7 linked regions of the Homo sapiens genome follow. The protein of the gene in region 1 purifies or fractionates together with the protein of each later gene. This does not show direct contact. Each region holds a gene or a part of one and is shown on either strand. Other genes may lie near its edges.

The links.
Region 2: the proteins of TM2D2 (region 1) and UQCC1 purify together in Homo sapiens (affinity purification with mass spectrometry; 2 studies listed by BioGRID and IntAct, with this or other methods). This does not show direct contact.
Region 3: the proteins of TM2D2 (region 1) and ERGIC2 purify together in Homo sapiens (affinity purification with mass spectrometry; 2 studies listed by BioGRID and IntAct, with this or other methods). This does not show direct contact.
Region 4: the proteins of TM2D2 (region 1) and PIGM purify together in Homo sapiens (affinity purification with mass spectrometry; 2 studies listed by BioGRID and IntAct, with this or other methods). This does not show direct contact.
Region 5: the proteins of TM2D2 (region 1) and SLC47A1 purify together in Homo sapiens (affinity purification with mass spectrometry; one large-scale study listed by BioGRID and IntAct). This does not show direct contact.
Region 6: the proteins of TM2D2 (region 1) and PCNX3 purify together in Homo sapiens (affinity purification with mass spectrometry; 2 studies listed by BioGRID and IntAct, with this or other methods). This does not show direct contact.
Region 7: the proteins of TM2D2 (region 1) and SIDT2 purify together in Homo sapiens (affinity purification with mass spectrometry; 2 studies listed by BioGRID and IntAct, with this or other methods). This does not show direct contact.

The regions. Positions count from the first base shown.
Region 1 is NC_000008.11:38,988,308-38,990,908, reverse strand, and holds the end of TM2D2 (TM2 domain-containing protein 2 isoform a precursor), read left to right. Parts: 3' UTR 1-2,101; downstream 2,102-2,601.
Region 2 is NC_000020.11:35,345,974-35,349,473, forward strand, and holds part of UQCC1 (ubiquinol-cytochrome c reductase complex assembly factor 1), read right to left. Parts: intron 1,300-3,500; coding exon 1,191-1,299; intron 1-1,190. UniProt on the Homo sapiens protein: Required for the assembly of the ubiquinol-cytochrome c reductase complex (mitochondrial respiratory chain complex III or cytochrome b-c1 complex). Involved in cytochrome b translation and/or stability.
Region 3 is NC_000012.12:29,374,673-29,378,172, reverse strand, and holds part of ERGIC2 (endoplasmic reticulum-Golgi intermediate compartment protein 2), read left to right. Parts: intron 1-3,500. UniProt on the Homo sapiens protein: Possible role in transport between endoplasmic reticulum and Golgi.
Region 4 is NC_000001.11:160,024,453-160,028,467, reverse strand, and holds the end of PIGM (GPI alpha-1,4-mannosyltransferase I, catalytic subunit), read left to right. Parts: 3' UTR 1-3,515; downstream 3,516-4,015.
Region 5 is NC_000017.11:19,540,354-19,543,853, forward strand, and holds part of SLC47A1 (multidrug and toxin extrusion protein 1), read left to right. Parts: intron 1-2,039; coding exon 2,040-2,141; intron 2,142-3,500.
Region 6 is NC_000011.10:65,629,276-65,632,775, forward strand, and holds part of PCNX3 (pecanex-like protein 3), read left to right. Parts: intron 1-81; coding exon 82-140; intron 141-244; coding exon 245-460; intron 461-1,075; coding exon 1,076-1,329; intron 1,330-3,500.
Region 7 is NC_000011.10:117,192,243-117,195,742, forward strand, and holds part of SIDT2 (SID1 transmembrane family member 2 precursor), read left to right. Parts: intron 1-11; coding exon 12-120; intron 121-331; coding exon 332-408; intron 409-577; coding exon 578-624; intron 625-910; coding exon 911-1,016; intron 1,017-1,610; coding exon 1,611-1,721; intron 1,722-3,370; exon of another isoform or gene 3,371-3,500.

The sequences.
Region 1 (2,601 bases):
AACAATGAAAATCTTCAGCAGAAATAGAAATGGCCGTGGATTGTAATACACACTGAAATTCTGACTTTCTGAATTTAAATGTAGAATAAATTTTACCAACTTGGAGTACTGTATGAGTATTTTCAGTAGGGGGAATAAACTCAAAATTATATTTGTTTTGCAGAAACCTAGTCATTTGAAATGAGCCATCCTATTAAGCCCTCTTTTGTCTCCATTATGTTCCAGAGGCAGTATATGCAGTGCAATAATTTTTTCATTCCACTTATGTTTTGAAAGCCAGCGGCATCAGATGTGTGAGTTGAGCTATTCCTCCTGGCAGAATTGTCCAATCTAAAAATCAGCGTTTACCAGCCCATGCTAATAAAATTAAGATTTCATACAAGTTTCTGTAAAACTATTCTTCATGATTAGCTCTCCCTGTGGGCTGCAGCAGTCAGAAAGAGATAACAGCCACACCTCTGCATTCCCCGGTCACCAGGAATAAAAGGAAATGTTCCAGATTGTAAGTGGTTTTAAAAACTCAGTTCTCATCGTTTGCAATCTAAGTTGAAAGAACTATTAAATATAAAATCAAAGGTGGGCAATGTGGCCAAGTCAATGGAAGAGGCTTTACTCAGAATAACTTACAAATTCTAGAAACAAGGTAGAACTCACTCAGTTTACCTAATAATAATTGAATTTAAGACCAAATATCACAGTTGAAATAACTTCCCTGGATACATTCTATCATTTTGTAGCTTTCCTAAGAATTTCTTGCTTTATCATTCCTGATTAATCACTGTTTTTACATTATTAAAGGTGGCAATTTTCTGTAAAAAATTTAAAACAGATGATCCTATTCTGTCTTGAAAGTTCTGTACCACACTGACCTTAACCTTGCTTATAACATAACAATTGGTAAACTTTTAATTCATAATCTTTATACCCTAAGATAGTATTTATTAAATTTTTATGGGTCATGAAGAAACTAGACCCTCTCCCCAGAAAAATCTACATACACAGAATTTACATAGAACTTGGGTTCATCTACACAATTTATGCATGAAATAAAATTGTACTGGTACCCTATAAATTTATACAAATAAAAGAGTTTAAGGGAGTTCAAGGATGCCATATGTATATTTTAAAAAAATTTCTAAGGGAAGTCTAAAAAACATAAATTATAATATTACCCAAAATAAGATGCTACTTTTCACCTAACCAAGTCCTGCCTCATTTCACACTTTAACCTCCTAAGTATATTCATAACCCTACCAAAAGTTGTTTTCTTTAAAAAATAAGAAACTTTAGGGCCAGCGCAATGGTGCAAGCCTGTAATCCCTGCACTTTGGGAGGCCGAGGCAGGTGAATCCTTTAAGGTCAGGAGTTCGAGACCAGCCTGGCCAACATGGTGAGACACACTCCCCCACCCCCGCCCAGTCTCTAGTAAAAATGCAAAAATTAGCCGGGCGTGGTGGCGTGCACCTGTAATCCCAGCTACTCGGGAGGCTGAGGTAAGAGAATCACTTGAACTGAGGAGGCAGAGATTGCAGTGAGCCGAGATCCTGCCACTGCACTTCAGCCTGGGCAACAGAGTGAGACTCTGACCAAAAAAGAAATTTTGCAGCTCCAAGGCTTGAAGTCATTTATGTTGCCAGGGGTAAGAGCTTGGTTGAAGGGCTAAAAGACTAGAAACTACTGAAGATGCCCTTCTTACTGTCAGTAAAGCTGCTGGAGACAAAAGAAGTTGTTCTCGCTGCTAGAGTGGTAATTTGAGAATCATCAGTATTCCTATGTGACAATCCAAAATTACTGGTTTTCATTTGACTTGTAAATGACACCCATCATCCATCTGCCCACAAACCTGGCCAAATGTGATACAACCTGAAAACCTGATGGACTAAAGGAGTACTATTTAACAATTGATTGCCTTTGCACTTTATTCAGGTTGTTTCTTAAATTTTGGTAGACAGATCCATTTGTATATGTGTGTGTTATATCTAGTTTATGGCTATAGAGAAGGTTTAAAATACTACAGTGTCCTTCCCTCAAGGTTAAATTAGAAGCTGCCTGCCTTTTAGTTGTTTCTTGCCTTTAATAAAATGTTATCAGTTCCCCCAGATTTCCTGGCACTGTGTTCTTCTTCCACTTGACATAGTCAGGCATCTTAGCAACAGTATAGTACCCCAACCTAATGATCCCTGAATGTGTATATGTGTTTCAAACTCCATTTTTCTTATTTTTTAATTGTAATCTCACAACATTACCATTTTTCTTTTTATTTTTATTTTTAAGTTCTGAGGTACATATGCAGGATGTGCAGGTTTGTTTCATAGGTAAATGTGTGCCATGATGGTTTGCTGCACCTATCAATCAACCCATCACCTGGGTGTTAAGCCCAGCATGCATTAGCTATTTTTGCTAATGCTCTCCCTCCCTCTACCCTACCCACTGCCAGGCCCCAGTGTGTGTTGTTCCCCTCCCTATGTTCATGTGTTCTCATTGTTCAGCTCCCACTTATAAGTGAGAACATGCAGTATTTGGTTTTCTGTTCCTGCGTTAGTTTGCTGAGGATAATGGTTTCCAGCTCCATCCATGTCCCTGCAGAGGACTGTTGCTTTT
Region 2 (3,500 bases), on another chromosome or scaffold:
AAAAGAAGATACTAGTGGGAGGTGAAGCCAGCTGGGCTTCTGGGTCGGGTGGATACTTGCACCAATCAGTGCTCTGTGTCTAGCTAGAGGATTGTAAATGCACCAATCAGCATTCTGTAAAAACGCACCAATCAGCGCTCTGTGTCTAGCTACAGGATTGTAAATGCACCAATCAGCACTCTGTAAAAACGCACCAATCAGCACTCTGTAAAATGGACCAATCAGCAGACATGGGCAGGGACAAATAAGGGAATAAAAGCTGGCCACCCTAGCCAGCAGTGGCAACCCGCTCAGGTCCCCCTTCCACACTGTGGAAGCTTTGTTCTTTCGGTCTTCACCATAAATCTTGCTGCTGCTCACTCTTTGGGTCCGCACCACCTTTAAGAGCTGGTAACACTTGCTGTGAAGGTCTGCGGCTTCATTCTTGAAGTCAGCGAGACCACGAACCCACTGGAAGGAAGAAACTCCGGACACACCATCTTTAAGAGCTGTAACACTCACAGCGAAGGTCTGCGGCTTCATTCTTGAAGTCGCGAGACCAAGAACCCACCACAAGGAACCAACTCCGGACACACTATGATCTGTATAACCAGCTATATTCTAGTGTTTTGGTTTCATTTTTCTATTGTCATTACATCCCATGTGACATATATATATATATAATATATTCCCCTTTCTCAGGTTAATTATTAAATGTACTAATGTACATTTTCAGGAGGTATCTTACCAGACTCTTCTAGGTTGCCAGTGATCAAGGAGCTTGAGTTTCAGTTCCTGAAGACAGTGCAGGCCCCATACCAGGGCCTCCCATCAGAACTAATTTATAGAAGGACTGGTTCAAATATTGAACTGGTGTCAAAGGTATAGTATCCTTAACTGGATTATCATTTGATTCCCTCCATTCACCAAATCCATCCCTCCTATCACCACGATTTGGGCTTTACAATCCCATCTCCATACAGGATGACTTCACACTGACAAATCACTATAATGTGTACAAACACATAAAGTATCTGTGGAGTATTAGTTTCCACAGAGGCAGAAAAAGTGACTTTAGCGGAACTGCCACTTGATATTAGGCAGCATTTCACAGAAATCTAAAAGCAGGGCCATTTTACAACAGATAAAACTCCAAACTCAAACCCTTCTCTGGAATTGTCCAGGACAAGCATCTGACAGCACTCACTTACCCCCATGACTCTGCCGCGCTGCTGAACATCCTCCCACATAAAATGAACTATGATACGACACATGTACTTCCCACTCCGGCCTTCCTGCTTCATTCGGACTAGACACATCCTGGGTGGGAAGAAGACAAAAAAAGTCTTGGCTGTTTGCATTTTTCACATCACACATTTCCACTGAAGGTCTCCTCATCTAAGAGTGAGTTTAGCAAAGGGCACCAAATCAAACTGGAAGTGAACTTTTTTTTTTTAAACTTTTACTGAGATATAACAAAGATACTATTAAGTGTATAAATCTTAAGTGTACTGCCTGATAAATTTTTATGTATTATACATACACCCACACAAGCACCACCCAGATCGAGATACAGATTATTTAGGGCACCTCTGAAGGCTCCCTCATACCTGGAGGGAACCACATTTTTTTGTTAGAAGACAAACAAGTCTGAATCCTTCATTTTACTGATGAAAGCAGGAGTCCTAAAGACGGAAAGTAATTTGCCCAACACCAGTTTTATATCCGTAAAACTGGGTATAGAACTGTGCTGTCCAATACAGTGGCTCCCCTGTGGCTATTGAGCATTTTAAATACAGCTAGTCAAAGCTGAGATGTGGCACAAGTTTAAGATTTCAAAGATTTAGTTGAAGAAAAAGAATATAAAATATCTCAATTTTTAATACTGCTTTCATGTTGAAATAATATTTCAGATATACTGGGTTACATACAATCTATTAAAATTTGTTTCTTTTTACTTTTTCAAATGTAGATACTAGAAAATTTTAAATTACATACATGGCTTGCGTTATATTTCTGTTGGACAACACCTGTCCAGAACACAGATCACAGAAAGTATTATGATTACATTTGTGTAATTATCCAATTGTTTCCCCCACTAGAAGGTAAGCTCTACTGAAGATAAAGATCAAATCTGGTTTTTGTCAACATTTTATTTCCAGGGCTTAAGTACAGTAGGCACTCAATATACACTTGCTGAATAAATAAATGAACAAACACCTATGGTTAGGGCCAAGTTTAGGACCTTTTCCCCTATACCACATTTGCCTCTAGTCAGTCCAGAGGGCTTTCTGAATAATCAAGACCTCACATAATCTAAACATACAAGAATTATATTTTATTATATATAGGAATATAAGCAGGGTCCCCAACTTTTCAAACTAGTTCCTCATTTCATGCATGACCATAGTTCATTCTTTTTTGTTTTGTTTTGTTTTGTTTTGTTTTGTTTTTTGAGACGGAGTCTCGCTCTGTCACCCAGGCTGGAGTGCAGTGGCGCCATCTCGGCTCACTACAAGCTCTGCCTCCCGGGTTCTTGCCATTCTCCTGCTTCAGCCTCCCAAGCAGCTGGGACTACAGGCGCCTGCCACCACACCCAGCTAATGTTTTTGTATTTTTAATAGATATGGGGTTTCACTGTGTTAGCCAGGATGGTCTCAATCTCCTGACCTGTGATCCACCCGCCTCAGCCTCCCAAAGTGCTTGTTTTCTCCTTTTTGAGACAGGGTCTCATTCTGTCACCCAGGCCGGAATGCAGTGGCACAAACACAGCTCACTGTAGCCTCAACCTCCCGGGCTTAAGGGAGCCTCCTGCCTCAGCCTCCTGTGTAGCTGAGATTACAGGTGTGCACCACCACGCCCAGCTAATTTTTTATTTTTTTGTAGAGACGGGGGTCTCAATTTGCTGTGCAAGCAGATCTCAAACTCCTGGGCTCAAGACTTCCTCCCACTTTAGCCTCCCGAAGTGTGGGGATTACAGGTGTGAGGCACCATGCCTGGCAGACTATAATTTTTATTGTTTCTCATTAAATAGCTTATTAAGCAGCTACAATAGGATTACTCACCTAAAAGACAATTCCTGTTATAATTATGGAATAGTTAATCCAACCTGACAATTCTATATCCATACACAATTGATCTTGCCAATTAAAATCTACCAGCAATAGTAATGGTACAATGAAATGATTACAGCTTGGCCTGTCTCAACATCTTTGTTAATAACTAAGATGGAGAAAAGAAAACATATTTACCAAATTTGCAGGTGACAAGAAGCTGGGCAGGAGAACAAATGTGCCAGATGATCCAACCATGAACCAAAAATACTTCAACAGGTTGAATCTAACAAGATCAACCTAATGGGGATAAATTCAGGATCCTGCATTTGAGTCTAAAAGAACAACTGTAAAAGTACAGCACAGATAAGTCATGCCTACCTATGTGTGAAAAGACTTATAGGCTTAAGTTGATATTATGTGCTCAGTAGGAATCAAGAGGATAACAATGCTGCCCTCCAAATTAAT
Region 3 (3,500 bases), on another chromosome or scaffold:
ATGGCCTTCTTAAAAGGACACCAGTCTCAGATTTTGGAGCACCCTGATCCAGTATGATCTCATCTTAATTAGTTATATCTGAAAGACTCAAATATTTCCAAATAAGGCCCATTCATAGATACCAGAGGTTGAGACTTCAACATATCTTGTTCAACGTATCAAATTGTGAGTTGACACAGTTCAGACTGCAACTTGGCCATATGTATTAACCAATTAAATTTTTCTCATATTGCCAAATATGTATTAAAAATAGAAGTTAACTCAAAACTTGGGTAGCAGGAAATAACTTTTGTCTTCATTTTTCTTTGGAGAATTAAACTTAACTGAGCAGACTATAAAAAGTTCATGAATTCTGTATTTTAATTTTGGTAAAGCATTTAATAGTCTCATTATATTCAGATGGATACAATGATGAAATATAGGCTGTGTGACTTTACTTACAGTGAGTGTTGATAATGTCTGTGTTCCAACCTGAAAGGGAGTCTCTTATGTCTTAGGAAGTTTTTCAAAATACAGTCACCCCTCCATATCTGTGGATTCTGCATCTGTGGACTCAACCAGTTGCAGATTGAAAATATTCAAGAAGGAAAAATTGCATGCCTACTGAACAAGTATTGTGTCTGTACTGAATACTTACAGACTTCTTTCTTTTCATTATTTCCTAAACAGTACAACTATTTACATAGCATTTACATTATATTAGGTTTTATAAGTAGTCTAAAGATCATTTAAAGTATACAAGAGGATGTGCATAGGTTATATGCAAAAACTACACCATTTTATGTCAGTGACTTGAGCATCTGAGAATTTTGATATCCAAGGGAGGTCCTGGAACCAATACCCCATGGATACTGAGGGACAACTGTCTTGTCTTAGCTCCAGCTGTTATCAGTGACTTTCTGGAGTTTATTTATGTTTGTTTTGTTTTTTAATATTCAAGACAGTTTAAGGAGAGACATCAAAGAAAACAGACATAGTACTGGAGATTGTCAAGGTATGAATAGCAGCACCAACCAGTGGGCAAAGGAATCTTGTGTAACGGCTTCTAACTAGATTTTGTGGACCAATACAAGAAAATGTATATCTATTTGAGAGGGGCGGGCCGTGTGGACAGGGAAAAGGGCTGGGTATAAAAACTGACCTAGAATTACATTTTTTAATTTTGCTGAATAAAGACATCCAAAAACAAAACAACCTCTGTTATATCTGTTTTTATCATTTCATAAAGGAAAGGCTGTTTTGACAAAATGGAATAAAATAATCTCAGAATAAAGGACACATTTTAAAATGGAATAAATTTAGCTTTAAAAGTTCTTTTCTACGTTGTCCATGACTAGAAAATTTTGTCACAGAATAGCAATGACTTCTGGCAAGCATTGATGATCTGAGGTATTTCCAAACACATTTTTGAAAATGGCTTACCACACTGAGTAGAGAGGCAAATAGAGTGGGAATGGAGCAATGAAATTGGGTATCTGGTAGGATTTAAAGGATTTGAGAACACCAGTGAAAATGAAGAGCAGATTTATCTTAGGAAAGAGCTTGAAGGGTAGTTCCTACTTGGGGAGGTAAATGTGTTTTGGATTTTAGAGGTGGAACAGTTTTAAGGGTTGACCTTGCTCATGGGTGGCTTTCCATAGAATTAAGATGGAGGTCACAGGAGGAGAAGCGCTGTTAAGCTTACATGGTAAAAAGGTTTTATTGTGAATGAATGCTATAGGATAAATGCCATCAGAGCATGAATTCCAAAGGATGATAATGGAGTGGGGGAGAAGCATATTGAATGATCTGGGTGCTGAAGTCATTAAGCAAATTATGAATATATTCAGATGTTAGTGGAATATAGCAACAAGTACGGAAGTGAGAATCAGTGTGTACTGTGGTTTGGAGCATAGTTTCAAGTTCTACCACCTGCTATGTAGCCTGGGAAAATTATTTGACAGTTCTGTGCCTCATTTCCTCATCAAAAAGTAGGATTAAAAATAGTACCTGCTGCTTCATAGAGTCATTTACAAGATTAAATGAATTAATGTTTAAAGAGCTTCAAATAATACATAGCACAAAACATGAGAGATGGTTGAGAAATATGGTAAAACATGATACTTCTGTAACCTGTGAGTCTCAGAAATGACTAAGGATTGGAATGGAACTGCTGCCAATAGAAAGTCAGGTTTTATAAAGAGAGCAGACAGCAATTTCTTTTAGAAAAGCTAGAAGTTATTGGATACCTTGTTTATGCCAGACAGTGACTTTTACAGTAGGTTGGCAAGTATGCAAAATGGAATGAATTTCTTGGAGGTAGGTTAGTGCTGAGCTTTCAGGAATGGGACTGGTGGAGTAGCTGAGGGGCGAGGTGCTCCATTCTAGAGTGATATCCCCTGGAAAACAGGGATGGAGGAAGCTAGAGATGGGTAGGGAGCCACATGATATATTCCAGCTAGACTTTCAAGGGAGGAGTGTTGAATAGGTTGTATGTATTATTAGGAGATTTGTAAAACTAACTGCTTGCCGTATCTTTATGCTTATATATAAATTAAAAGAGCATTTAGAAAGCTCATTATACAAATATAACATTTATATAAACTTTTAGAAATGTAATTCACTGTTTTATTCATTTGTTTAACAGTGCTATACTGACTATGTGATGGCCACTGTTCTAGGTCCTGGGACAGTAGACAACAGGAAAATCCTTCTTGTGGATCTTATTTTTATATATTTACTTACCTAAGTATGACATACTGCTGTGATTTGAAAGATGTGCTACTGTGGTGTTTCTGGGAAAATTTCCTTCCTTCCTTTTCTCAATAAATATTGAATACCTGTTCGCTAGGCATTGGAGATACAAAGATCAAGTTAGACATGGTTCCTGCTCTAACAATCCGGTGGAGGAAACAGAAAAAGAGGCAATTAGAAATAGTGTGATAAAGGTACAACGTTCTAGAAGCAGATAGACTTTGAAGGCCATGGAAAGTTTTTTTGTTCCCCCTGCTTGCTCAAGGTAGAGATGAGTAGACTGGACCTTGAAGAGTAAGTAGGAGTTAGTCAAATGTAGAGATGCGGTAGGGGGAAGAAAAAATATTTCTGGCAAAGAGAATAGGATATTTAAGGAATTGAAAGTGATTTAATATGGTTGGAACGTAGACTGTGAGTGATTGGGTTTGAAGAGAGGTTAGCAGGACCTGGTTTTTGAAGGGCTTTGTAAAACATGTTAGGATAGAATCCAAGCTCTTAAGTGTAGTGGGAAGGGAAGTTTTACAAAGATTTGAAGAGAAATATCAGATTTATGTATTAAAAAGATAATTTATTATTACAGTATAGAGAGAGAATTGGAAGGTTGAAGATTAGAGGTTGTTGAAGCAATGTAGTGATAGATTGTGGCAGTTGGGACTAGGAACATACTTGGACATAAGGAATTTCTCAGTAGGCCTGAAGAAGAGAAGACAGGCAGATTTAAGAGAAATTTAGAAATAGCTTAAGTCTAAAGATATAACCCATGTTTC
Region 4 (4,015 bases), on another chromosome or scaffold:
TTTGGGGTAAAAATAGCAGAGTCAGTTGCTGAGGACAATGACCTTCCTTATAACATTTAGTTTCATACCCATATTAGGTCTTGTCTTGAGGACCCTTTATATGTGCTTGTTTACTAGTGGCCTTCCAGCCATAGCATTCTTACCTTTTTTTCCTATTCTAAGAATTAAAAAAAAAAATTATAGAGCCAGCAAGGGAGGAGGCAGGAAACAGAAATCGAATTTCATCATTCCAGTATAGTTGTCCCTTTTTTTGTATTTCTGACTTGGTTTTATAATTATATTTACTTACTAATTATTGTTTTTTAACATTCTTTATTGTGGCTTACTCTTCATACTTAGAATTGAAATTGTTGGACATCACATGTATATTCACATTATAAATACATCATTCTTCCACTGTTAGACCTTTAGATTGCTTCCAGTTTTTAATATTCTAAATAAGACTTTCAACATTTTCTGTGTTTTAGCTCATTCTCTTAGGACATTCTTAGAAGTTAGAAACATTTCTGCTGGGATCGTTGGAGGGAACTTCAAACTTTGGAATCTTTCCTGCAAGAAATTCTTTACCAAAGAAAGGCAGGTGTTTCTTAAAGGGATGCAAAAGATATTTTGCACTTTGTATGTTCCAAAACATTTAGTAAGTTAACTAAAAAAATGAGTTAATTTGGTTTCTTGGGGGATTTTAATTTTTTAATTTGTTTTCTGGTTATGTAAAAAAAATGTTTTTTTTTTGCTTCTTATCACAATCCTTTTGTTTCCTTTTTAATCCTTTAATAACACCTTCAAATTTTATAAGACTTTGGCTTATTTCCTATATAATTCTTTTTTTCTTATACCACCTCTTAAGATTGATATGTTCATTTGCAGGTAAGCATTAATTATTAGATAAAGAGGGATGATTCTCAAGATTGTGTGTGTTCTGAACAGAGGGAACTACATGACATTTTCTTCTGTAATTGCCTTTGTAACGTCTTTAGAATGTGGTTCCTAAATATTCCTGGATAAATTCTCTTGATAGGCCCATTGGAAAGGCTAATACTCCCACCCAGTGCTTTGTTCCTTCCTGGCAAAAGAATTCCTAAAACCACTGATTTTAGTTACTGACTTCTCACCATCTGGACTCTTACAAGATGTTTCAGAAGTTGTGTAGAACTTGTCTTTCAGTTGACTTGTGGCTGAATTTACTGTTACTTCTCTAATATCAGTTGTTTTCTGCATTACCACCCTCTCCCCTAACCATCTGTACTATGAATGGAAAAGGAAAAAGATGGAAAAATTATACCTAGGATTGTCCCTAAATGCAACCTCTTGGTTCCCCCCACCCCTCATGTTTTATTATAAACGATTTTAAGAGCTGGGCATGGTGGTTCATGCCTATAATCCCAATGCTTTGGGAAGCTGAGGCAGGAGGATCACTTGAGGACAGGAGTTTGAGACCAGCCTGGACAACATAGTGAGACCCCCATCTGTACAAAAAAAAAAGTGCTACTTGGGAAGCTGAAGTGGGAGGACCACTTGAGCCCAGGAATTCGAGGAGGTTATAGTGAACTATGATTGTGCCACTGCACTCCAGCCTGGGTGACAGAGCAACACCTTGCCTCTAAAACAAACAGCTCCAACTATTTTATTTTTTTATTTTTCTGAGACAAGATGTTGCTTTGTCACCCAGGCTGGAGTGCAGTAGTATAAACATGGCTCACTGCAGCCGAACTCCCAGGCTCAAGTGATCCTTCCTCCTCAGCCTCCCAAGTAGCTGGGACCACAGGTATTTGCCACCATGCCTGGCTAATCTTTATTTTTTGTAGAGACGAGGTCTTGCTATGTTGCAAGAGGGAGATCACTTAAGTGATCTTCCCTCATTGGCTTCCCAAAGTGTTGGGATTCCAGGCGTGAGCCACTGCACCCCGCCTGACCTAACTATTTTAAACACTACTCATATTGCCATCATCTAAATTCAACAACAATTTGCCATATTTGCTTTATGTATATGTATAATTATATATTTATAAAATTTTTTGAACCATGTGAAGTTGCAAACATCATTGAACTTCACCACTAAATATATCAGCATGCATCTCCTAAAAATCAGGTATTTTCTTACAAAACCATAATTCTGCTATCTATTATGATTTAACATTCTGTCATTTTCAAATTTCTTCAGGTGTTTTTTGTTACATCTTAAAGAACAGACGTTCTTGGATCTCAAAGATTCCGAGGAAGGAAAGAACATGGTGGATAATCCATAATTAAGAAGTTTGAATCTTTTCCTAGTCTTAAAAACAAAGTGAGAACTAAAGGGGTTTACCTTCCATCAAAGTTGAACAAATTAATTCTTTTGTGTGTCATACTTTCTGTCTCTCTCCCTAAAAACATGGGGGTGGTAATCTCTTTGTTTTATCTGGTAGGTTTTCCAGATAAAAGATTATACAGGTTTGGAATCTTAATATCCAACCCCCAACTCCAAGCCCTGCCCCAACAACAACAGCTAATTATTTTACATCTTGATGATGGTAAATTTTTCATGATTAACCAATTTTGGGCACCTATTCCGCCATATATGGTTTTATTTAATTTTCACAGCAACACTTCAAAGTTGATATTCATATTCTAAATTTATAGATGAACGAAGAGGCTCAAAGATTAAACAACTTGCTAATAAGTGATTTTTACCCATGCTTTTTCCATTATATTATGTTTTGGATTTTTCCAGAGTACCCAAACCCAGCAGATGCATACTGCTCCAAAATAAATGGAACTCAATACTGGCTCTGTCAAGTGTCTCTTGCCAATCAATTGTCCTTCTAATCTTTTGAGGGGCAGTTCTCTCAGTTGTACCAAGTCACTGTCATCCCCAAACTTTTCAATGATTCCAGGCCTTTAACAACTCCCCTCCACCTCCAAACCCTCTCTCACCAAATTGTGTAATTTCTTTGTTTACTGCTGGCTTCATCATGCACTTTTCCTTCATAGCCTATTTTAAGAAGTTGATTTGCTGAACTGCTTTTTAGCCAAGCTATTTGTAAATCAAGCTACACAAAGTATGTGGCCATAATTTCCAAAAGGCAAATGATCATTGTTCAATTGCTGTTGCTCTGCAGTGTGCATTCATGCAGTTAAAAATTGTACTGCATTGATAGTACGGCATCAGAGAATAGATCACTTAGGTTCAAATCCCAGTGCATGATCCTGAGCAAGATTATCATATCTAGATACATTAGTTTTTATCTGTGAAATGGGAATGATAGCACAATCTTCATAGAATTGTTGGTAAGGATTAAGTGAGTTGATATGCTCAAAGTGTGCATGCTGGCATAGAACAAGTCACTGTTTACAAGCCTTTAAAGAAGGAGCTGTTCTGGCACTGTAAACTTGAACCTTTTTTCCCCAAATCTAATGGATATAGGCAAGGAAATTATATTTATATAAAATAAATGTTTGACTACCTTTGATCATAAACTTTATTCTCATCTTGACCTGTTCCTTTGAAAAGATAATAAATACTGATATGTGAAAAATGTATGGACAGATTATTCAGATGTCTGGTTGAGGCTTTACAGTTTTGTATATTTCTGTCAGACATTAAGCTGACTCTAAGCAGTGGAGGTTTGGTTTATGCCCCTAAATTACACAGCACTTCTTTTCTCCATTGTATCGAGGGGTCATTCAGGGGTTGCTGTTCTGGAGATGGAAGCACATGTCTCCTGCCTGGGTCAGAAGCGTCACAATAGCACAAGCATTTATTCAGCACTGGCCTAGGAGAACCATTCATTTAGTCAAAACAAGCATTTATATTCATTATCCTGAACAAAAACCAGACTAAATGAGAACATTTATAGCTGCTCAGGCACTCTGCTAATTGCTATGTCTGCTAGACAAAGTGAAATGACACTTACAGTGACTATTTAAAAATAATTTGGAGCATGAATATTTGAAGCTCAGTTCTTTTTACAAAGGAAATGTATAACCTTTGCTCTTCATTTTTTTTGGCAGTTATTTATAGATCCAGGCCCTGTGT
Region 5 (3,500 bases), on another chromosome or scaffold:
CAGATTCTGTGAACACAACCATTTGTTACAGATGATGTGCAAAAGCTTAAAGCACAGTGAACTGAACAGATTTGGAAGTGATGCCGAGTTTACAAATAAAAGGGACCCTGTGGCCTTTAAAGATACATGAATTCACAATTTAAAGAGACACCAAGCTCCACCCAGTGAAACCACAGGGGACATCTGTAAGGGTGGTGACAACGCCCAAATCGTGTGGCACCATTACAGGCCTACTGGGCATCCATTGGCTCTAGGTTTAGATTCTCCAGCATCTGGTTCTTCATGTCAGCCTTTTTTATTGACACCTCCACCCCACCCCCTTTTTATTCCCATCTTCTGTCTTATTTTGGCTTACGCAAAACATTGCAAAAGCGCTCCTCACGTTCAGTAGCAGGGGGACTGTGGCGATTAAATTCACATTAGGCTTCTGTGGTAGTGAGAGAAGTGCCTGGATCATGTAGGAGTTCATACAAGAAAGATACTTCTCCTACAACAGACACACACACACACACACACACACACACCCCTAGGGTTAGGAACAGGCTGTGCTTGCTCTGAAGGTCTGGGCCCATCACAGGAGTTGAAAACAGTCTCTCCCGGGATGTGGATTCTAGGGAAGAAAAGAGGGAGATCATCGGAACCATTATGGCTCGGGGGCCTGATGAGGTCCTGACGTAGCAGTTTTGGGGTGGCTGCAGAGCTGGCAGATGGGCTGTGTGTGAGCCTGGTGGAGGTCAGCTCTAGAACCTAAGTCATTGGAGCCCTAAAAGAGGGACCTTTCTGTGGGCTCAGCACAGAGGACTCTGTTCTCCCTGAGGGCGGTGAGAGGCGGCCTTGTGGCTAGACCAGCAGCAGCATCACCAACTCTGGGGTATCAGCTTCAGTGAGGGCCCCATGGGGCAGATGCAGGCAGCGGCGGCAGCAGCAAATCCTTACACACCCATTCTCTCCTAGGGAGCAGGGGTCAGGTGAACTCCCCATTTTGGGCCGTGTAGCCTGCCAGGGGAGAGGGGCTTCCCCAAGAGAGATACTGGACCGCCTGGGTCTAGTGGGTGGGGGGCAGGAGGTGATTTTAAGTTAACCTCCAGAAATAAGCTCATTATCCAATCATGCAGTGAAAGCACTGTGGAGCAATTCATAGAATTGCCCACTGGAATTTCGAGGAAGAATGGTTCAATATTCCAGAATTTGCCCTCACATCTGAGGCTTCCTAGAATGCAAGGCGTTCAGCAGGCCTGTAATGTTTCACCCTGAGAGTCCGGATCCCGCTGGGACTCCAAGTGGACGATCTCATCGCTACCTCCAGCTCCTCCTGTCTACAGACTTCCTTGCTGGAATGTGTTCTTGTTGTTGAAGGCTGTATTCTCTCCAGTCCTCACTAGGAATCTTGGATAACAAGGGGGTTATCCCAGAAGGCAGCCTCTGCACATTGCAGAGGAAATTTAATGTGATCTATGGCTTGAGAAACTGAACTGAAAAACAGGAAAGGCAGGCTGGGCGCAGTGGCTCACGCCTGTAATCCCAGCACTTTGGGAGGCCGAGGCAGGCAGATCACGAGGTCAGGAGTTTGAGACCAGCCTGACCAACATGGTGAAACTCTGTCCCTACTAAAAATACAAAAATTAGGTGGGTGTGGTGGCGCCTGCCTGTAATCTCAGCTACTCAGGAGGCTGAGGCAGGAGAATTGCTTGAACCTGGGAGGCGGAGGTTGCAGTGAGCCAAGATCGCGCCACTGCACTCCAGCCCAGGTGACAGTGTGAGACTCTGTCTCAAAAAAAAAGAAAAGCTGAAAAGGCTGGGAAGTTCTCAAAAAAGTGATTCTGACCCAGTGGTTGCAAATAAATGTTTTAATATTTCAAGAAGCCTCCCATCCCCAGCCCCAGAAATTGTACATTTGCCTGTGAAAGGTGGCAGAGGCTCACTGAAGTTGTATTTCTTTACTTCTGACTGGACTTGTTGGGTCGGGGTCACACTTGGGGCCCCAGGCTTCCCTGCAATGGTGGTCACTCACGTCCCTTCCCGTTCCCCTCTCTTCCCAGTTCTTGGTTCAGCTGATGGTGTTCCTGATCAGCTTCATAAGCTCCGTGTTCTGTGGCCACCTGGGCAAGCTGGAGCTGGATGCAGTCACGCTGGCAATCGCGGTACGTGTGGGCTTTCTGGCAGGTTTACCAACACTGTCTGTGTTTGCCTTCTGCTGCTACTATAACAAATCATCAAAATGTAGTGGCTGAAACCTACACAGACTTATTCTCTTACAGTGCTGGAGTGCAGAAGTCTGAAGTGGGTTTCATGGCCTAAAATCAAGGTGCTGCAACTTTAATTCCCCTTTGCTGTGTAACCTTGCAGATTCCTAGGTTCTGGGGATTGGGCTGGGGACATCTGGGGGGGCATTATCCTGTCTATCACATCTTCTCATTTATTTTATTTTATTTTATTTTGTTGTTTTTTTTTTTTTTGAGATGAAGTCTCGCGCTGTTACCCAGGCTGGAGTGCAATGGTGCGATCTCGGCTCACTGCAACCTCTGCCTCCCAGGTTCAAGCGATTCTCCTGCCTCAGACTCCTGAGTAGCTGGGGTTACAGGCGTGCGCCACCACACTTGGTTAATATTTGTATTTTTAGTAGAGATGGGGTTTCACCATGTTGCCCAGGCTGGTCTCAAAGTCCTGAGTTCAAGCAATCCACCTGCCTTGGCCTCCGAAAGTGCTGGGATTACAGGTATGAGCCACCGTGCCCAGCCTCACATCATCTTATTTCTTTTCTTTTTTTTTTTTTTCAGACGGAGTCTTGCTCCGTCACCCAGGCTGGAGTGCAGTGGTGTAATCTCGGCTCACTGCAACCTCCGATTCCTGGGTTCAAGCAATTCTCCTGTCTCAGCCTCCTGAGTAGCTGGTACTACAGGTGCCTGCCACCATGTCTGGCTAATTTTTGTATTTTTAGTAGAGACGGGGTTTCACCATGTTGGTCAGGCTGGTCTTGAACTCTTGACCTCAGGTGATCCACCCGCCTCGGCCTCCCAAAGTGCTGGGATTACAGGTGTGAGCCACTGCGCCCGGCCTACATCATCTTATTTCTAATCCATGGAACTCGTTCCCACTCTTGGTCCCACAGTTGGGGGAGGGGAACAGTAAAAGGGGAGTTCAGTCTGACTTCCTCAGAGGAACTGACTCCCCCCCATGCCCACTCCTCAGTTGTCTGTCTTACTGAGAGTCCTAATCTAGAAATGGGTCTGGAAGGTAAAAATCTAGATCTTTGTGTCCAAACTTAAAATTGGGAGGAACTGCAAATCCTCTCTGTATAATAGATGCAAACCCCCAAAACCAGAGACATGTCATCAATCTCAGCCAGGAATTGTCAGCTGGCCATGTAAGAACAAAGGGTTTGGTTTGTCTAGTTAGGTTGTTTCTAGAAAAGTGGATTCAGTGGCTCTCGGGCAGGTGTATGTTCCCCTTTCCTCCTGCCCTGACGGAGACACAATTTCACTTGATCTGCCTGGTCTCGC
Region 6 (3,500 bases), on another chromosome or scaffold:
GTGGCACAGGGAGAGCATGAGCAGGGTGCACCCTCTCTTCACCTTCTTGGCCAACCGCCTTGTTGCACTCTCTCTGAACAGCACTAAACGTGTGGATCATTCCAACACCCGCCTGGTCACACAGCTGGACAGGAACCCTGGTGTGTACCCAGCCATCCAAGGGGCTTTAGGGCAGGGCCTCCCTGGGGAGGGAGCCTCGCTAACTTGTCACTTTGTCCATTTGCCCGTCTGTTCTGGGTCTTAGGCGCTGATGACAACAACCTCAACTCCATCTTCTATGAGCACTTGACACGTTCGCTGCAGCACACACTGTGTGGGGACCTGGTGCTGGGCCGCTGGGGCAACTATGGCCCTGGTGACTGCTTCGTCCTGGCCTCTGACTACCTCAACGCCCTGGTGCACCTCATCGAGGTTGGCAATGGCCTCGTCACCTTCCAGCTGCGTGGCCTTGAGTTCCGGGGTGAGCCGCAGGACCAGGCTCGGGTGGGCAGGCACAGCTCGGGCCTGATGTGGGAGCTGTGTTCAATAGCACGTGCGAAGGAGGTCCAGTCCAGCTCTGTCCAGGCTGGCGGGTGGCCTTGGGCAAGGCACTCCTCCTCCCTGGGCCTGCGTTTCCCAGTCTGAGCAATGAGGTGGCAGGGTCTCTTGGCCAAGCCCTGTGCCTGCCCCAACTTTAGGTCCCAGTGACTCTACAGGTCACTGCAGTGAGGGCCTGGGCCTGGAGGTCTGAGTTCTCACACCCAGCCTGCTCTGTGGTCTCAGGCTTGGCCCATGGGTTGGGCGCCATGAGTGAGCCAGCTCCTTCCTCTCAGGAAGACGTGTGTGTTGGATGCCCGAGAGTGCAGAGGGGCCAGACCGTGTCCCTGCTCCCTCCCGCCCTGCCCTTGGATGCTGGGAGTTGGGAGGAGAAAGGCAGGCGCTCTTTCGTGAATCTTGGCATCCAATAAGGTTGACTCCCCTGGCGTCCAAGGGGGTGAATGGCAGCAGGCCTCTGATGCCATGTTGGTCACTCTCCCAGGACAGGGCAGGTAGGGATTGTTCTAGCAGCCCCTGACTGCACACCCCTCCTCCACAGGCACTTACTGCCAGCAGCGCGAGGTGGAGGCTATCACCGAGGGTGTGGAGGAGGACGAGGGCTGTTGCTGCTGTGAACCTGGCCACCTGCCACGGGTCCTGTCCTTCAATGCTGCCTTTGGGCAGCGCTGGCTGGCTTGGGAGGTAACAGCCAGCAAGTACGTGCTGGAGGGCTATAGCATTAGTGACAATAATGCTGCCTCCATGCTGCAGGTTTTCGACCTCCGCAAGATCCTCATCACCTACTATGTCAAGGTACGGTGGGCAGGTGTGGCCGGGCAGCAGGGCCCTTGCGGGTGAGCGCTCGCTGACCAGAGGCCCCAGTACCCCCTTTCTGGGTTGTTGGGAGCCTGTTTTGTCCAAGGGAAGCTGAGGCCTCAGAGAGTTTAAGTGTCCCCTGAGGTGCCACTGCCAGACCTCAGGTTGCAGGGGCCTCTGTGCCCATATGGCTCTGATAGGTGCCCAGGCAAGGAAGGCTTGCTTTGGGCAGTGAGTATGGGGCAGGTGGGCAGTTGCAGAGGCCAGCCTTTGAAACCACCAGCCCCTGCCCCCAGCTCACCCAGCACAGAGCAGTGGTAGAGCTAACAGTTGTCACGTTAACGATCATCATGGGAGCAGCTGCTTGAGCAGTAACATTTACCACGGGTGGGCGCTATGCTGGGCATCTCTCCTGAGCTGGGTGGAGTCCCCCACCCTTTGAGAGGGGCCCTGCTATCTCACAGATGTGGAAGTTGGCTTGCAGAGGTTCCAGAATCTGAAGAAAATGGCCAAGCCAGGCCTTGAACCCAGGCTGGCCCTGAGCCACAGAGCTTTCCTGCCTTAGCCTGGGGGCTCTGAGCCAGGCCTGAGGATCTTGAGACCTCTTGGGGGTGGGAGGGGGTTGGTGAGGCAATGTGGGGTACATAAGGAGCCCTGGAATGGGGGTTCTGATCAGCCTGGAATGTTTCTTCCCTGTGTCCCTCAGCTTACCCCTTGAGAAGTGGGGGTTATTGCAGTTCTCTGAGATGGCAGAAATGTTGAGGCTTGGCCAAGCGTGGTGGCTCATGCCTGTAATCCCAGCACTTTGGGAGGCCAAGGCAGGTGGATCACTTGAGGTCAAGAGTTTGAGACTAGCCTGGCCAATGTGGCGAAACCCCATCTCTACTAAAAATACAAAATAATTAGCCGGGTGTGATGGCGGGCACCTGTAGTCCCAGCTACTTGGGACGCTGAGACAGGAGAATCACTTGAACCTGGGAGGCAGAGGTTGCAGCCAGCCGAGATCGTGCTACTGCACTCCAGCCTGGGCAACAGAGCAAGACTGTCTCAAAAAAAAAAAAGGAATTTTGAGGCTTGTGGTGCTCAGAATAAGCGTACTGGGAGTGGGGTGGCCTGCTGATCACAGTGCAGGCTCCCACGTGCCTTCTTAGGATCTACCCTGGTGCTCCCTATGTTGGGCTCGGTGGGTGGCCTACTGGGGCCCAGGTGAGCCTGCCACCTAGGTTCTCTCTGGAGTAGTTTCACGAGGCCCTGGCTGTCCTTCTCCAAAGGAAATCCTGTCCACACCACATATCAGAGGAGCTGTCATTTGTCATTCCTTCTGCCCTCCCAGCCACTCCTAGGCAAGGATTTGTGAGACCACCCCCCTTTCATCAAGAAGGAGGCTGTGTCTAGAGAGGGACATTCCCAGTCCCAGGTCACCGAGAGGTCATGGCCTGGTCCACCTTCCGGTCCCATCTTGAGAGAGGTGCCCTTGCCCAGGTTGCCCTGCTGTGCCTGCTAGGCTAGGGCCAGCAGGTTGAGATGCACCTGGCCAGGTCTCTTGTCCCATGGGGAAGCTGACTGGCCACATCTAAGGCTGCCTCAAAGGCTGGGCAGAATTTGAGTCTGGAGGAAGTGCTTGGAGGACCTGGGGTGGCTCCGCTGAGGATGTGGACTGAGGGTGAAGCTTGGAAGGACAAGTCAGGGCTGCCAGGGGTGGGGCGGGGGGAGGCGGGTGTGCTGGGGAGCCTGGTGCATCTGGGGAAGTGTCCCAGCTGCAGGGATAGGTCCTTTCCAGCCTTCGAGGTTGGCCAGTCGAGGCGGAGCCCCTCCCGTTAGCTTTGCCCTTCCCGTGGGAGTTACTGGGCTCTCAGACCTGCTTCTGCAGCTGGGAAGGGCTACAAGAGCAGGAAAAGGCACCGTGGCTTGAGGCTGCACGGAGTCTGGGCAGTGCTTCCCGGGAAGTACCTTGGGCAGAGCCCAGCTCGCAGTGAGCGCTCACAGGCGGAGCGGCTGCTGGTATTGCCCCCCGTCTTCATTTTCTTCCTAAGATGACCGTGAGTGTTGTGTCAGAGAAAAGGATGGCACTGGTGAAGGTTAACCAAGCACCTGATATGTGCCAGGCCAGCTCCTCTCCCGGTCCCTGAAGCTTTTCTTTTTTTTATTTTTTTTTGAAACAAGGTCTC
Region 7 (3,500 bases), on another chromosome or scaffold:
CCTCCCGACAGGTCTTTGGCAAAGGGAACACGGCGTTCTGGATCGTCTTCTCCATCATTCACATCATCGCCACCCTGCTCCTCAGCACGCAGCTCTATTACATGGGCCGGTGGAAACTGGGTAAGGGCACGCCCGGGGCAGGGCCTGGGGGAGGGGTCTGGGGGGCCTTGGGAACCCGGACGCACGGGAGACGCTCAGGTTCTGTCTTGGGGGCCCTGGAGTCACTGGGTGAGGAATTAGATCAGGCCTGGGCTCCTCAGCTGGCACATCCCAGGGGTCCAGCAAAGGAGGGTGCCCCGTGCCTGTCAGCACCACTCCCTTCTCTTCGCAGACTCGGGGATCTTCCGCCGCATCCTCCACGTGCTCTACACAGACTGCATCCGGCAGTGCAGCGGGCCGCTCTACGTGGTACCTGCCTGGTTCCCCTGCTCCATTCTCCACATCTCCTTTCTTCCCTCTGATGGGGGAGTGGGGCTGGGCTGAGGACCCAGGGGAGAGTGGGGACCAGCTGGCTGGGCCTTCTTCCACCACCCTCCCTGCCCCTGCCCTCAGTCCCTGTGTCCCTGCTTCCCTCCAGGACCGCATGGTGCTGCTGGTCATGGGCAACGTCATCAACTGGTCGCTGTGAGTATGGTCAGCAGTAGTGGCCTGGTTGGGTGGACAGCTGGGGACTCGGTCAGCCACTGGCTGCCTTGGGGGCTAAGGACAACTTCCAAATGTTGGGCATAAGACATGGGGGCTAAGAGAGATCTTGGCCTCTCTTCTCTCTCTTGGCATCTGGGCTTCTAGAATCTTCTGTGGGCTTCTGAACACAGCCCAACATCATAATAAAACATGCCTAGGCAGGGCAGGAAGAGCACTTCCTTGCCCTTGGGCTTCCTGCTTCACCACCCTTCATCCCTCTTGCCAGGGCTGCCTATGGGCTTATCATGCGCCCCAATGATTTCGCTTCCTACTTGTTGGCCATTGGCATCTGCAACCTGCTCCTTTACTTCGCCTTCTACATCATCATGAAGGTGAGTGGGGCTGGCCAAGCCCCCTCTGTCAGCTGCTCTGCTATCTGGGGAGAGAGATGGGCCCGGCAGCATTGAGGGGCAGTGAGAAGTTTTCTGTCCCATCTTTGCTGGTTGCGGAGGGGAGAGGCTAAAGCCTCTTGCATGGGCCCCTGGGAGCCAACTGCAGCCCAAAGACCATTTACTGAGCCCCTTCCAAGGGCCCTTGAAACAGGTGGCATTTTAGGCTGCAGTTGTAAGTGCCCCTTTCCATGCAGAAGGGGCTGAGGGGAGGTAGGGTGTGGGCCTCTCAGGATCAGGTGCTTCCCCAGAAACCATCCTGCCTTCCACTCTGATTGGAGCCCCCTGCATAGGGAGCGCCTTGAGGCCAGTGCACTGTCCCGACACAGGGTTCTGGATACATGGAGGCTGGGTGGGGTGGACATCGGGGTGGGGGCAGGTTGAGCTCTGTGGTTGTGCGGAATGGTATGAATCCAAGGAGCAGTCCTGAAGGCCTGGGAGGCCATGAGGAAAGGGAATCTGGGAAAGGCTGGGTGGGACAGCGGGGTGGGACAGGGGTAAGCCCTCAGACTGCTGTCCCTGCCTGGCCCCTCCCAGCTCCGGAGTGGGGAGAGGATCAAGCTCATCCCCCTGCTCTGCATCGTTTGCACCTCCGTGGTCTGGGGCTTCGCGCTCTTCTTCTTCTTCCAGGGACTCAGCACCTGGCAGGTGAGCACTCACCCTCAGGCTCCTTGTGAGCCAACAAGTGGCCAGTCCTCTTTTTAAACATTGGGGCTGAGCCTGGGATTACCTGTAATCCCAGCACTTTGGGAAGCTGAGGCAGGAGGATCACTTGAGGCGTTCAAGACCAGCCTGGGCAATATAGTAAGAACCCGTCTCTACAAAAAATAAAAAAATAAAAATAAAAAAATTAGCCTGGCGTGGTGGTATTCACCAGTAGTCCTAGCTACCTCGGAAGCGGAGGCAAGAAGATAGCCTGTGCAGGAGTTCCAGGCTGCAGTGAGCCAAGATTGCACCATTGCACTCTAGCCTGGACGATAGGCCATGTCTCTAAAAAAAAAATTTTAAACATCATTTGGGAACACCTACCATAGGCCAGCACTTTCATAGCGGCTTCCCCAGTTAATCCTCCTAGCATTCCAGCCTGGAGATAGCTCCAGTTTACTTACGAGACAGATGAGGCTCAGAGAGGCCAAGTGACTTCCCCAGGGCACATAGCCAGTGAGTGGCACAGCTGGCATTTGAAGCCAGCAAGGCTTGGCTCTCTTCTCTGCCTTGCAGGACACCTACCACATGTCAGGCTTTAATTCTGGGAATAGAACTAAGTCTGACATGGTCTCTGAGGGACTCATAAACTAGCCGAAGAGGGCTAGAAGGACTGTTGGTGCATGACTGTTAGTGCTGTTTACGATGTGATACATGAAATGAAGGGCACAGGCAAGACGGGGCAGGAGGACAGAGGACTAACGGGTCTCTCCGAGTTAGGAGTCCAGGAAAGCTTCCTGGAAAAAGTGCGCCTTGTTCTGGGCTATAAAAGTCTTGGGTGAGGAGGGCTGGGCACGGTGGCTCACGCCTGTAATCCCAGCACTTTGGGAGGCCGAAGCGGGTGGATCACGAGGTCAAGAGATTGAGACCATCCTGGCCAACATGGTGAAACCCCATCTCTAGTAAAAATACAAAAGTTAGCTGGGCGTGATGGTGGGCGCCTGTAGTCCCAGCTACTCGGGAGGCAGAGGCAGGAGAACGGCTTGGACCCGGGAGGTGGAGGTTGCAGTGAGCTGAGATCTCTCCACTGCACTCCAGCCTGTCAACAGAGCAAGACTCTGTCTCAAAAAAAAAAAAAAAAAAAAAAAAAAAAAGTCTTGGGTAATGGAGAAGAGCCCCATGGCCCAGACCTACTGTGACCTTAGTAATGATACAGGGGCAGATTTGGAGGTCAGTGAATGCACTCATTTGGGAGCCAGGCAGACTGTGAGCTCCCTGAGGGTGGGGCAGGTCTTGGTTATGTCTGTGGCCTCAGCATGTAGCACAGACAGACACAGCCTGGATGAGCTTATGGGATAGAGCTTATGAGTAGAGCAGGGAGGACCTTGAGTGCCACAGGTTATGGCTACTGTCCCGGAGCAGGTGTGTAACCTGACAGTAGTGCTTTGGAAAAAACAATGAGCCTGCAGAAAGATTAGAGCAAGGGCGGAGTCCAAGGCCGGGAAGTGGGTGAGAAGGCCTTCTGCCATCTCTGAGCTGAAGGCCTTCAAGGTTGTTGCAACCCTGTGCTCTTAGGTCAAGGGAAGAGAATCAGAAGGAAGGAGGAGGGTAAGAGTGAAAGAAAAGGGAAGAGAAGCCAGTGAACTCAGGGAGAAGTTTGTAACCAAAGGCCATTTGTTAGATCGGGAAGGGGTAGGGACAAGGACAAGGGACAGGTCAGAATTGCTGCTGTCCTGCCTGGGGCTGGAGAGAGGGGTGCCCAGGAGCAAGATGGCAGATGGG